Homo sapiens: one gene and its partners. The protein of the gene in region 1 interacts with the protein of each later gene in a pairwise test. Each region holds a gene or a part of one and is shown on either strand. Other genes may lie near its edges.

What was found. The genes of interacting proteins can lie anywhere in the genome.
Region 2: the proteins of TOPBP1 (region 1) and TBC1D4 interact in a two-hybrid assay, tested with the Homo sapiens proteins (one large-scale study listed by IntAct).
Region 3: the proteins of TOPBP1 (region 1) and RAI1 interact in a two-hybrid assay, tested with the Homo sapiens proteins (one study listed by BioGRID).

The regions. Positions count from the first base shown.
Region 1 is NC_000003.12:133,636,945-133,642,236, forward strand, and holds part of TOPBP1 (DNA topoisomerase 2-binding protein 1), read right to left. Parts: intron 3,227-5,292; coding exon 3,015-3,226; intron 1,219-3,014; coding exon 932-1,218; intron 1-931. UniProt on the Homo sapiens protein: Scaffold protein that acts as a key protein-protein adapter in DNA replication and DNA repair. Composed of multiple BRCT domains, which specifically recognize and bind phosphorylated proteins, bringing proteins together into functional combinations.
Region 2 is NC_000013.11:75,283,170-75,286,669, reverse strand, and holds the end of TBC1D4 (TBC1 domain family member 4), read left to right. Parts: 3' UTR 1-3,167; downstream 3,168-3,500.
Region 3 is NC_000017.11:17,684,458-17,687,957, forward strand, and holds part of RAI1 (retinoic acid-induced protein 1), read left to right. Parts: exon of another isoform or gene 1-1,731; intron 1,732-3,500. UniProt on the Homo sapiens protein: Transcriptional regulator of the circadian clock components: CLOCK, BMAL1, BMAL2, PER1/3, CRY1/2, NR1D1/2 and RORA/C. Positively regulates the transcriptional activity of CLOCK a core component of the circadian clock.

The DNA of each region.
Region 1 (5,292 bases):
TAGTAAAGACACACTTTTTTTAATGTGCGTCACTGGAATTCTGACCAAAAATAAAGGCATAAATTAGCTTGGGGAAAACTGTCCTGGATATCAATTAATATTTATTTTCTGAATATGAATAATCTATAAACTTTTTAGTAAGTCCACTCCAAAACACAATAAAAATTATTAAAATATTGCTTCTAAATACCCTACAAGCAAAAATATCAACACGTGAATGAGTAAAATAATTCTTCAAAGGTTCGTGGATAAAGAAATCATAGACAGTGGGTTTGAACAGCCACTTAAGAGGTCAAAAGCTACTAAAGAAATAATGATGAAAATCAGTTTTGGAAAATCAAAGAAAATTATTTGGAAGATTACATTAGCCCCTGATTTACAAATGCATTTTTCAGAAAGGGAGCCATACTACAATGCTCACGAGATCAAACTAAAACACAGACTTAACTCATGTCTTTACAGGAAACAATTCAAGTAAGGTGATATACACACATTTTCAGAAGGCAAATCCCGGGTGTACTCTGAGAACCAATATATAAAGTATCAGTGTGTTTACATTTTATAGTTTATAAAGTGATTTCATCATTTGATCTTTATAATCTATGAATTTTCAGAGCAAATATTATCTTCTTTGTATGAAAAAACAAACTGAAGCTCAGATATGTTAAATGATTGGCCTAGTCATACAGTTCAAGATCGATCCAGTACTTGAACCCAGATGTCCTAATTTCACACCATATTTATCTATAGCTGTTACCTTAACCCTAAATGTATGCTGGGACTCAAAACGTTCAAACTCAGTAACATAAATCTACTTGCCAATGTCTCTGGAAAATTTATTACTACACTTCAGAGGTGATGCCAAATTTGGTGCTTTAACTTTATAAACGGTAAAACTGTTAACTCTGGGACCACTGCCTATAAACCTTACCTTCACATCAAAGGAAGGCTTGAAGAGTTTGTCCTTGGACAGGAATTTTGATGGTGTATCCAGGTGTAACGAGGGCTCCTTCTGAAGTGGTTGTCCTACTGCTGGGGAGGCTGCGACCTGTCTGGCATGTTGTGAGACCACAGCACGGAAAGCTTTACTCTGAAAGCGGTTCATATCTAAAGGTGTAACGACGGTTTTTCTGTGAGTTTGCAGGCGTGTGCCAGGATGCTCTGCAGTATCTGAATTTAGATTGATTCCATTTGTTATTTCTGTTTCCAAACTTCGTTCTAGAGATTTAAAATGAAAAGAAACAAATATGAGCCACTAATGCCCACTTTTTCCCGGTACACAAGAAGTAATATTTTATACTGTTTTCTTTCCTTTCTTTCTTGCATAACTCCTGGGCTCAAGAGATCCATCTACCTCGGCATCCTAATCTGTTAGTTTTCATGTCAATTCTCAGGTACACTTTAAATCACAAAATTATATACCTACTTTCCAAGAAACAAACCAGATTATGCATTAAATATATGTTGAGTTAGACAAGCACATTAACTGAAAAAATAATAATAGATTTCCTGTTTCATCTTGCTATGTCTCAATAAGCCTATTTGCCAAAAATTGTTATCAGTGAATGTCTTTCTAGTCAATGACAGAGTAAAAAGAAAAATCTCAATTACAGGTACTCAGAGTTAACTACAGTCTAGTTTTGGAAAGTCCTTAATCAAATTTTAATATGACCTGAACATCACTTAGCCTCAGTCATAAAATTACCAGTCTGTCTGGCAAAATAAGTAATGACTCTGAGAGGTATTCCCAAGCTGCTGATATGTCCCTGAAGTTTGCCCATGGATGCTATTATCTTACAAGAGAGGGTACTGTATTCTTCCACCTATGCCTTCCACCTTTTTTCAACATTTAACAAAAAACCTTATTAGATAGCTACTCCATGCCAGGCCTAGTGTTAGACATGGGAAATACAGAATTCACAAGACATGCATGTTCACTGCCTTTCTGGAACTTTAAATTTAGCAGGAAGACACAAAATAAACAACCATTATAACACTGAGGTAAGAGATAAAAGGGATGATACAGAGTGTCATGGTGAAACAAAAAACATTATACCAAGACAAAGGCCATCCTTGGTGAGTCAAGAATGCTTCCCAAGACAGTGTGGCGATTCCTCAAAGATCTAGAACTAGAAATACCATTTGACCCAGCGATCCCATTACTGGGTATATACCCAAAGGATTACAAATCATGCTACTATAAAGACACATGTACACATATGTTTATTGCAGCACTATTCACAATAGCAAAGACTTGGAACCAACCCAAATGTCTATCAATGATAGACTGGATTAAGAAAATGTGGCACATATACACCATGGAATACTATGCAGCCAGAAAAAAGGATGAATTCATGTCCTTTGTCGGGACATGGATGAAGCTGGAAACCATCATTCTGAGGAAACTATCACAAGGACAGAAAACCAAACACCGCATGTTCTCACTCATAGATGGGAATTGAACAGACACAGGGCAGGGAACATCACACACCGGGGCCTGTCGTAGGATGGGGGGATGGGGGAGGGATAGTATTAGGAGAAATACCTAATGTAAATGACGAATTAATGGGTGCAGCAAACCAACATGACACATGTATACATATGTAACAAACCCGCATATTGTGCACATGTACCCCAGAACTTAAAGTGTAATAATAATTAAAAAGAAAAAATGAAAGGCTTCCCAGGGAAAGTGGTATCTTAGCTGAGAACTGAAAGATAAGCAGGAAGAGCAGGCAACTGTGAGGTGGTCTACAGGAAACATGCAGAAGCCCAAAGATAAGAGGAGAGATAGCATGTTAATTATATAGTGTGTTACTATGAGCCATAGAAAGAATCAACAGTAAATAGGAGCCAAGCTTACATCTGTAGACTTCGAACACTGAGACCCTCACTGCACCCAATGTGAAAAGCAAAAATCAATGACCCTTCCTAAACACAAGCATTGGCACATTTATATCCCAGAAACCATCTAGTTGTAAATATATATAAAAGAACAGAATAAAAGTATTAACCTTCTTTAGTTGAATTTTCAATCAGAAAATGGCTTTCGTCTGCTCTCTTTCCCGTTCTAGCAGTCTCCAACAGCCAAGCTATAGTAACGGCAGGTAAATTCCACTTCTTTGCAGCTTCATATTTAGAGCCACCACGTTCTTTCAGTATAAGATGAGTACTGGCAAACATGCCTTTCTTTGCATTGGATTTGCGAACAAAGTATTCTTGAACACTGAAATTTATGTTTAAAGAAGTGGAAATGGTCACATATACAATTAACCCGCAAAACTAACAAAATTTCCAACACAACAGTGTGGTTAGAGATCATGTAAGTATAAAAAAAAATACTGATTAAAAGTTGGTTTACTCTATCTGAAATTAAGCTAATCCCCTTACAAATGCTTACTCTAGGGTAAAAATGTATTGCTGTAACAAACTTTTTATAAAAACATAATTAGACATGCAAAGAACAGACAGCAAAAATCCTTTTGAGACAGGGTCTTGCTATGTTGTCCAGACTGGAGTGCAGTGGCACAATCACAGCTCACTGCAACCTCCGCCTCCCAGGCTCAAGCCATCCTCCCACCTCAGCCTCCCCAGTACCTAAGACTACAGGTGTACACCACCACACCTGGCTAATTTTTGTATTTTTTGTAGAGATGGGGTTTCACAATGTTGCCTAGCCTGGTCTCGAACTCCTGAGCTCAAGTGATCCTCCTGCCTCAGCCTCCTAAAGTTGGGATTACAGGCGTGAACCACCTCACACAGCCAAAATTACCTCCTTAATTAGTTATCACCCCCACACCTTGTCCTTTCCTCCCAAAAGAAGGCACAGAAAAAATGACAGGAGCAAAGTGTATAAATAACATTATTATTATTTTTTAACCTACTACAACTTTCCAAAGCATTTCTACATATTATCTCATTTGATCCTCTCAATATTTAAGTATAGACATGGGAAAAAATACAGAGAAATTAAGTGCCTCAAGATCATAGGATATTAAACACAGAGAATACGGGGCAGAAAAAGAAGTCTACGACTTGAGATTGAACAGAATTCCGTGATTTCTTTTATGACTTCTGGGTTTTATGTTCTAGTTCCCAACTTTTCAGATTTTTAAATTTCCCATGTTTCCTAGCACTTTTTTTTTCTATGTTTTGTGTTTATCTTAGTACTTTTATAATTTCATTTTTTACATTTAACCCACCAATCCATTCAGTACTTATTTAGATATGAGATACTGCTCCAACTTTAATGAATCCTATTTATTGAATAAGCCATGTCTTCCTTATATATATTTGAAATGTCACTTGTATCGTAAATTCCTTTTTACATTTGGGTCTCCTGCTACATTTGCTGTCCATTAATTAAACTTTCTGCTACACGTAACCACACTGTTATTTAGTGAAGTTTCACAAAATATATATTTGTTTGTTTGTTTTCTGAGACAGGGTCTTGCTCTGTCCTCCAGGCTAGAGTACAGTGGCGCCACTGTGACTCACTGCAGCCTTGACCTCCCAGGCTCAAACAATCCTCCCACCTCAGCCTCCCAAATAACTGAGACTACAGATTTATGCTACATTGCCTGGCTCATTTTTAAAATTTTTTGTAAAGACAGGGTCTCAGTATATTGTCCAGGCTGGTGTTGAACTTGGCCTCCTGCCACGGCCTCTCAAAGTGCTAGGATTACAGGCATGAACCACCAGACCTGGCCACAAAATATATTTTAATAACTGTTAGGGCTAGTCCCAATTATTCTATTTCAGAATTTGCATGACTTTCCTGCTGAGTACAGCTTTAGCTGTATCCAGTGGAGTCTGTCATCATGTATGTTATTATCTTCCACAATTTCAGTTTTAAAAGAATTTTATTATTTCATATAATTCAAACAGAAAACAGCAAAAAAAGAAATATACAGCTATACGAATTATTATAAGGTGAAACCCTTAAGTCCACCACCCAGGTCAGAAGACAGAATCTTGCTAACTACCCCAGAACCTCTCCAACATGCCATATAAACCCCCTTCCCTCCCTTCTTAATAGTAGCCACTATTTGGGCTTTTTTTTGGAGACAGGATCTCATTTTGTTGCCCTGGCTGGAGTATAGTTGTGTGATCATAGCTCACTGCAGCCCTGGTCTCCTGGGCTCAAGTAATCCTCCTGCCTTAGCCTCCCGAGTAGCTGGGACCATAGGCACATGCCACCATGCCTGGCTCATTTTTTTTTATTATTTTTTAAATAGAGACGAGGTCTCACTATGTTGTACAGGCTGGTCTTGAACTCCTGAGCTCAAGCAA
Region 2 (3,500 bases), on another chromosome or scaffold:
CGCCTAGTCACAGCAGGTGGACCTCGTGCTCATCAGAGCATGCCAATCCTAAGCCATTGGACATATGTAGACTGGTTTTTGTTGTTGCTATGTACATATAAATATATATATAAAATGAACATAGTTCATGCTTTCAGATAAAATGAGTAGATGTATATTTAGATTAATTTTTTTAGTCAGAACTTCATGAAATCCACACCAAAGGAAAGGTAAACTGAAATTTCCCTTGGACATATGTGAAATCTTTTTGTCTTTATAGTGAAACAAAGCCAGAGCATCTTTGTATATTGCAATATACTTGAAAAAAATGAATGTATTTTTTTCTCCAAAGAACAGCATGTTTCACTCAATGGTGAAAAGGTGGAAACATTTATGTAACTTTATGTGTATCTGTCTTGATATCTACTGACATTGTCTATATGAGGAAAATGATTACTGGTCATGCTCCTGTGAGTTTTTTGGGAAGGTAGGGTCATTTCTCCCTGCCTGCTTTGTGCCAACTAGCATGTTGCATCTACATGCATTATGAGTCTGGTTAGGCATTACTTTAAACATACATAAAGAGACAGTAGGACATTGTGGCTGAGTCTACCCAGCTCAAGGTAAAGGAGAATGTTGCTAATTTTTTAGCAAACTAGACCAGCATTATTACTCAAACTAAAAATATCACACCTGAAAAATTTAATTTAGGACCTAAAATGTCTAGATTAGCTTTCTGCTTTTTTTATTTGAATAACTCATTCAGTTGTGAATGAATTCCTCTTTATTTGGTGCCACAGTCACCAAATGACAAGGATTTGCCACTTTCCCACCAAATTGTGAGTGCTTGTAATTTAGGTCTCTCTACCTTAAATTCAGTATAAGGAAACGTAATTATGATTGATTTTTTCCAAAGATGACAAGCTGTGTTGAAATACATTTTTTCTTTTGACCAATTGACAGAATCTAATAAGCTTTAATAATCTTCCCCTTTTATGTGAAAAGTTTTGAGAACTGTGAAATGTTTAGGAACAAACTGTTGAAATCCATTGGAAGGGAAAAAAGAAAGTGGTACCAGTGTTACCAGCTCAACTAAAACCTGCAATTCTGCATTTCAACTCTTCACTTCCTCAGCCTACAAATAGCTCATTAGATGACATTCACGCATGCTGGGTATAGGCAAGGAAAGTAATTTTCAAAGTACATTTGCAGTTCTCTTTTTCAGAGATGATTCTATGATAGTGCCTCTGAAAGTTGATGCAGCATTTTTGCCTTTCCAAAAAGTATTTATCCTCACTGCTTTTTGCAGTACTTGTATTTTCACAGATGGATTATCTGGGGTAATTTTCTTCAAAGGGAGTTTGTTATACACAGTGAAAATGTATTATAGAGTAGAATAGTAAAGCTCTAGGGGTTTCAGAAAGCTTTGATGAACAGATGACAAACATCTGAAACCCCCTCCGCACTGTTACCCAGTGTGTATATAATGACTTGTTATAGCTCAGTGTGCCCTTGAATCCATACAGTTTCTTAAAAGACAATAAAATCTTATTAATAAAGTTAATGTAACTTCTAAGTTCTAGAAAATGCTGATTCTGTCTGCCCCATTCAATTGGGGGCTACTAATTGATTTGTTGCTTGGATTTCCTGAGAATTTCTCTATTTGTAGGAGGGGTTTTTTCTTTTTACGGTCTGTTGATGACAATTACTTTATGGGTGTGATGCACCGATGGTAGCCAAGGAATCTGTTGGGGAAGTTCGGAAAGAAACCTTTTCTTTCTTTTATTCAGTTTAAAGTAAACTTTATCCTGGATGTTTAGAATCAACATTAAGAGTTATATTATGGTGTTCAGAGATTAAGCTGACTTGGATACAATATTTTCTTTTGAAAATGAATTTTCTTTTTCATTTGTGATTTTTAAAAAATGTTGCACCAGTTATGCTTCATGCATCGTTACATCTTCATCAGGTTAATGTAATGTCTAGTTCCTTTGCAATAAATATATTGCTGCAGCTTTCTTGACGTATACTGTTACTTTTCGGGAGAGAAGCAGCTCTTGGTTAGAGTCTTTTACTGCAGGGGTCCCTGGGTACCTGTCTGTGGCCTGTTATGAACCAGGCTGCACAGCAGTGGTGGGCATGCGAGCAAGCATGACTGCCTGAGCTCTGACTCCTGTCAGATCAGCCACGGCATTAGATTCTCATAGGAGCGCAAACCCTATTGTGAACTGTGCATGCAGGAGATCTATGTTTTGTGTTCCTTAAGAGAATCGAATGCCTGATGATCTGTCACTGTCTCCCATCATCCCCAGATGGGATCGTCTAGTTGCAGGAAAACAGTCAGGGTTCCCACTAATTCTACATTATGGTGAGTATATAATAATAATATGGTGAGGATATAATAATAATAATAGAAATAAAGTGCACAATAAATGTGCTTGAATCATTGAATCATCCTGAAACCATCCCCTGCCACCAGTCTGTGGAAAGATTGTCTTCCATGAAACCAGTCCCTGGTGTCAAGAAGGTTGAAGACCGCTGCTTTACAAGATCTGCATGGTGAAACCCCATCTCTAGGGAAAATACAAAAATTAGCCAGGCGTGGTGGTGTGCATCTGTAATCTCAGCTACTCAGGAGAGTAGGAGAGGCATATATTGCTACTTATAGGAGGCTGGAGAATAGTTTGAACCTGGGAGGCGGAGCTTGCAGTGAGCTTGCAGTGAGCCATCATGCCACTGCACTCTAGCCTGGGCCACAGAGTGAGACTTTGACAAAAAAAAAGAAAAACAAACAACCAAACAAAAAAGATCTGCATGGTTTGGATTGTACCTACTTAAAATTGCTACACAAATAATTCTTCCTAATAGAGTCAGACAACAAAGATAATTTAGGAGACATTTATGTAAGTACATTGTTACCATTTTTCAACTTACTTTCTCAATGGAGACTTTTGAAAGAAAAATATAAGCAACCACATTGACAGATTTGCATTCTACCCTTTTATTTTCCAGGCCCCCTCATAGATAGCAAGGGAGAGAGAGCCACAAGAAAATACAAAATTTTCCAACTGGACGCAGATAATTAAGAATTAAGGACATTTACTGATGGATGTGATATGAATGTTTTTATATAAAATATGCATCTCTTGGAGTATTCTCATGTATATTTGTAATCCAATAAAAATACACTGTATCTTCTTGCTAACTTTAGGACTAACACTTTTAACTATTTTTTGCTTAATGTAGTAGTTAAGCATTTTGAGAAGGAGGCACTGTAGGCTTAATAGTACAGTCTCTTAATATCCATGTTGACTTTTACCCATTTTGTCACTATTTCACCAATTATTTTTTCACAGTACCAGATTAGGAGTAAGAAATCTACCATCTGATGGCATGAAGTATTTAGTCCTTCTACCATGATGTGACACTCTCATTATATTACTCATTAGCTGTGATATAATGAGAAAAGCACGGGATTTAGGGTGAGAAGTTTTATATCTGTGTCTTGGTTCCACCACTTT
Region 3 (3,500 bases), on another chromosome or scaffold:
TGCCATCTATTCATGCAACAAATGTTAATTGCAACCCTAATAATTCCTCTCATGTTAAACTACTCAAGTAACACTTGGATACTTGGGTGAAAAATGCAAATAAGCCAGAAATATATGTAGTAAAAGTAAAAGTTCCCTTGGCACCCTCCCTGCAGGTAACCCCAGTTAATAGTTTGAACGTATCCTTCCAGACTTTTTGTTACTCACTTAATGCATATATATATATATATATATATATATATATATATATGTATGTATGTATGTATATTACATATACCAATCCATGCATAGTTTTCTTTTTCCCCAAGTGAGGACATACTGTGGGCTCTTCCTCGGCAGCTTCCTTTTTCCTCTCCGTTTGTCTTGGAGAGGTTGGTTGTGTGGCGAAGTCCTTCAGGGCAAGTTCTGGGTTGACTCCTGGCTCCACCACATACTGAACAGGCCATTTACCTCTCTGTGCCTCAGTGTCCCCATCTTTACAATCAGGAGAATAACAGTACAGACCTCACGGTACTGAAGTAAAGATGCAGTGAGTTAATCCATATGAAGTTTAGAGCAGTGCTTTTGCCAATAAATGCTGATTGCTGCCGTCATTGTTGTATTGTTATTGCTGTTCTATCTCCATGGCAGCCCATGTTTGAAATGCATTGCTTTCCACAGCTGCCTGTGGCCATGGCATGGGTGTCTTTTTCCTCCCCTATCCAACGTGTGGCTCCACAGGGAGGGAGGAGGTGCAACAGCAACGGTGTGCGCAGAGCAGCGTCTCTGCGGGAGAGGCACCTGGGCACTGGGCCCAAGGGAACAGGGATTTTCCAAGGACCCACTGTTTCCAAAGTTCTGTGCTTAATGTCGGGGTCCAAGCAGGAAGCATCCCTGCACTTGACCACAAGAAGGTCACAGCCCAGTGGGTGATTGGGACCCAGCTCATAGCCAAGGCCTCGACCAGAGCTGGAGGCTTCCTGGAGGAGGGGCCTTTGAGCAGGTGCTTCAGGCACGGCGAGGTAAGAGTGAGAGGAGCATTCCTGGCAGAGGGAACACAGTGAGCAGAGCGAGTCTTTGGAAGCTGGAAGGGATGTGGCCTGTGTGCTGTAGCCAAACAAGAGGGGAGGACTTGGCTCAGAAAGAATGGTGGCGGAAGAGGTTGGGCTGTTGCTGGGACCTCCTCACTGGCCTCCCTGCCTCCATCCTGTCCCCTCCCAGGTGCTGGCCAGCAGCACTGTCAGAGCGATCGTTCTAAACCCAGCAGATAACCTCCAGTGGCTCCTGCTGCCTTATGAATAAAGGTCCCATCTGTAGTTCTTCCCATGCTGTCCAGGGCCATTTCTGGTGTCCTCTGCCTGCCCTGTCCTCATTCAGTCCTGTCCCCTCCAGCCACAGCTGGCACCTCCTTGTTAAGGTGCAGCCATGTGCATCCTTGCCTCTGTGCATCGGGCTGGGCTGTTCCTTCCACCTGGGATGCCCCTCACCTTCCTCCCTGCCGCCCCAGACCAAAACAGACGTCCTGTCTCCTCCTCCTCTGACCTCCGAGGCAGAATGAGTCATCTCCCTTTGTCTATACTCGTGGCATAGCGTTTATCACGGAATTATCGGCAATTCTGCCAGTGTCTGTCCTCCCCATGAGGCTGAAGCATCGAGGCCTGAAAGCACGTCTCCTTGCTCTCTCCGGCCCAGTGCCAAGGGCGAGGCCTAGAACACAGGACGCTCAGAAATGCTTCCTGGCAGGAGGGCCAGGTGAGGTGGAGAGGGTGAGAGCCCCAACATTGTCTCCCGTGGGCCCCTTTGATCTTTAGCAAGGGCATGCTCAGGTCTGTGTGGATCTTGTGCTGTCAGCCTTTAGATGAGTGGGGTGAGGGGCTTGGTGGGGTCGGGGGGCAGGGGGAGGTGGCGGGCAGCTTCCCCAGGCTGCTTCCTGAGGGGGCTGGGAGAAACTGGCTCATCCTGTTCCCCAGTGATTGAGGCAGAGCTGTGCCCTGTTCCTGGTGGGTCACTGGGGATCTGAGATTGGAATGTGACACCAGGGAAGGGGAGGCAGGGTGGGAGGCAGGGCTTGGAGGTACAGGCTGGGGCTTGGCTGGCAAAGGACAGATTTCGCTCCACTGGTTCTTGAACCCGTGTGTGTGTGTGTGTGTGTGTGTGTGTGTGTGTGTGTGTGCACGCGCGCGCCGGGGAGGGGAGAGATGGGGAAGAGAAAAACATGAGGGCAGAGAGGTGGAGTGGGGGTGGAGGACCTGGGGAGTGGTGAGCAGGGACAGGGAGAGATGGAAGTGGGGGGACGGCAAGGAGTGAGGGAGAAGTTCCTGCTGCTGCTGCTGGAGAGTATGAAGAGTGTGCTTAGGGCCAGGAAGGAAAGCAGCCAGGCGCATCGTCTCACACCACCATCAGCCATGCCTTCCTTCGTCTGTCCAGCAGACAACCCTAAGTGTTCTCTTGCTTGGCTCCATGCTTGCATGGCCCCAGACAGGAGCAAGCCTGTGGTCCAGGCTTCGCACCCTTGAAGTCTAGGGGCCAGGTGAACAATGAGCATCCGGTTTCTTTCTTTTTTTTGAGATGGAGTCTTGCTCTGTCGCCCAGGCTGGAGTGCAATGGTGCGATCTCAGCTCACTGCAACCTCTGCCTCCCGGGTTCAAGCAATTCTCTGGCTCAGCCTCCCAAGTAGCTGGGATTACAGGCGCCCACCACCACGCCCGGCTAGTTGAGCAACCTCTTTCTGCACAAAGTGATCAGGCTGGGGGAGAGAAGGTGCCCAGAATGCTGTGCAGAGGCAGGAGAGGAGGGTGGAGCAGGCGAGCATGGGGTAGGGGGCAGGGAAGCCATGTGTTAGGCACTATGGTGGGGAGCCAGGACTGCTGGGGAGTCTTCCTTTCCTCTCTGGCCTCGGTCTCATCTGTAAATGGGGGAAGAGTGGACTGCTCTTGCACTGATGGTCTGTGGACCCAAGTCACCCACTCCTTGGGCATGAGAAACCAGGGACCCCGTGGAGACAGCTGATAGAACAGGGACAGCAGGCATGCTCAGAGCGTCTGCAGGCCCATGGTCAGGGGGCTTGAGGGAGAACATGCAGAATCCAGTGGAGCTTGGGTTCGCCTCCTAGAGTTCCCTTCTTGGAGACTGTGCTCATCTGGAAGGCGAGATAGGGTCGGGGTAGGGGAAGGAGCACTGGATTCGGAATCAGGAAAAGTGGTTGAGTTTTAACTGCAGCATCCCTCGGGCAAGTCACTTTCCCTCTGTGAGGGTCAGTTTCCTCTTCTGTCAAAAATGTGAACGGGCTTTGTTGTAAGCATTAAAGGTGAGCTGGGGCGCCGTGGCTCACGCTTGTAATCCCAGCACTTTGGGAGGCCGAGGCAGGCGGATCACTTGAGGTCAGGAGTTTGAGACTAGCCTGACCAACATGGCAAAACCCCATCTCCACTAAAAATACAAAAATTAGCCAGGTGTGGTGGCCCATGCCTGTAATTCCAGCTACTTGGGAGGCTGAGGCACGAGAATCACTTGAACCCAGG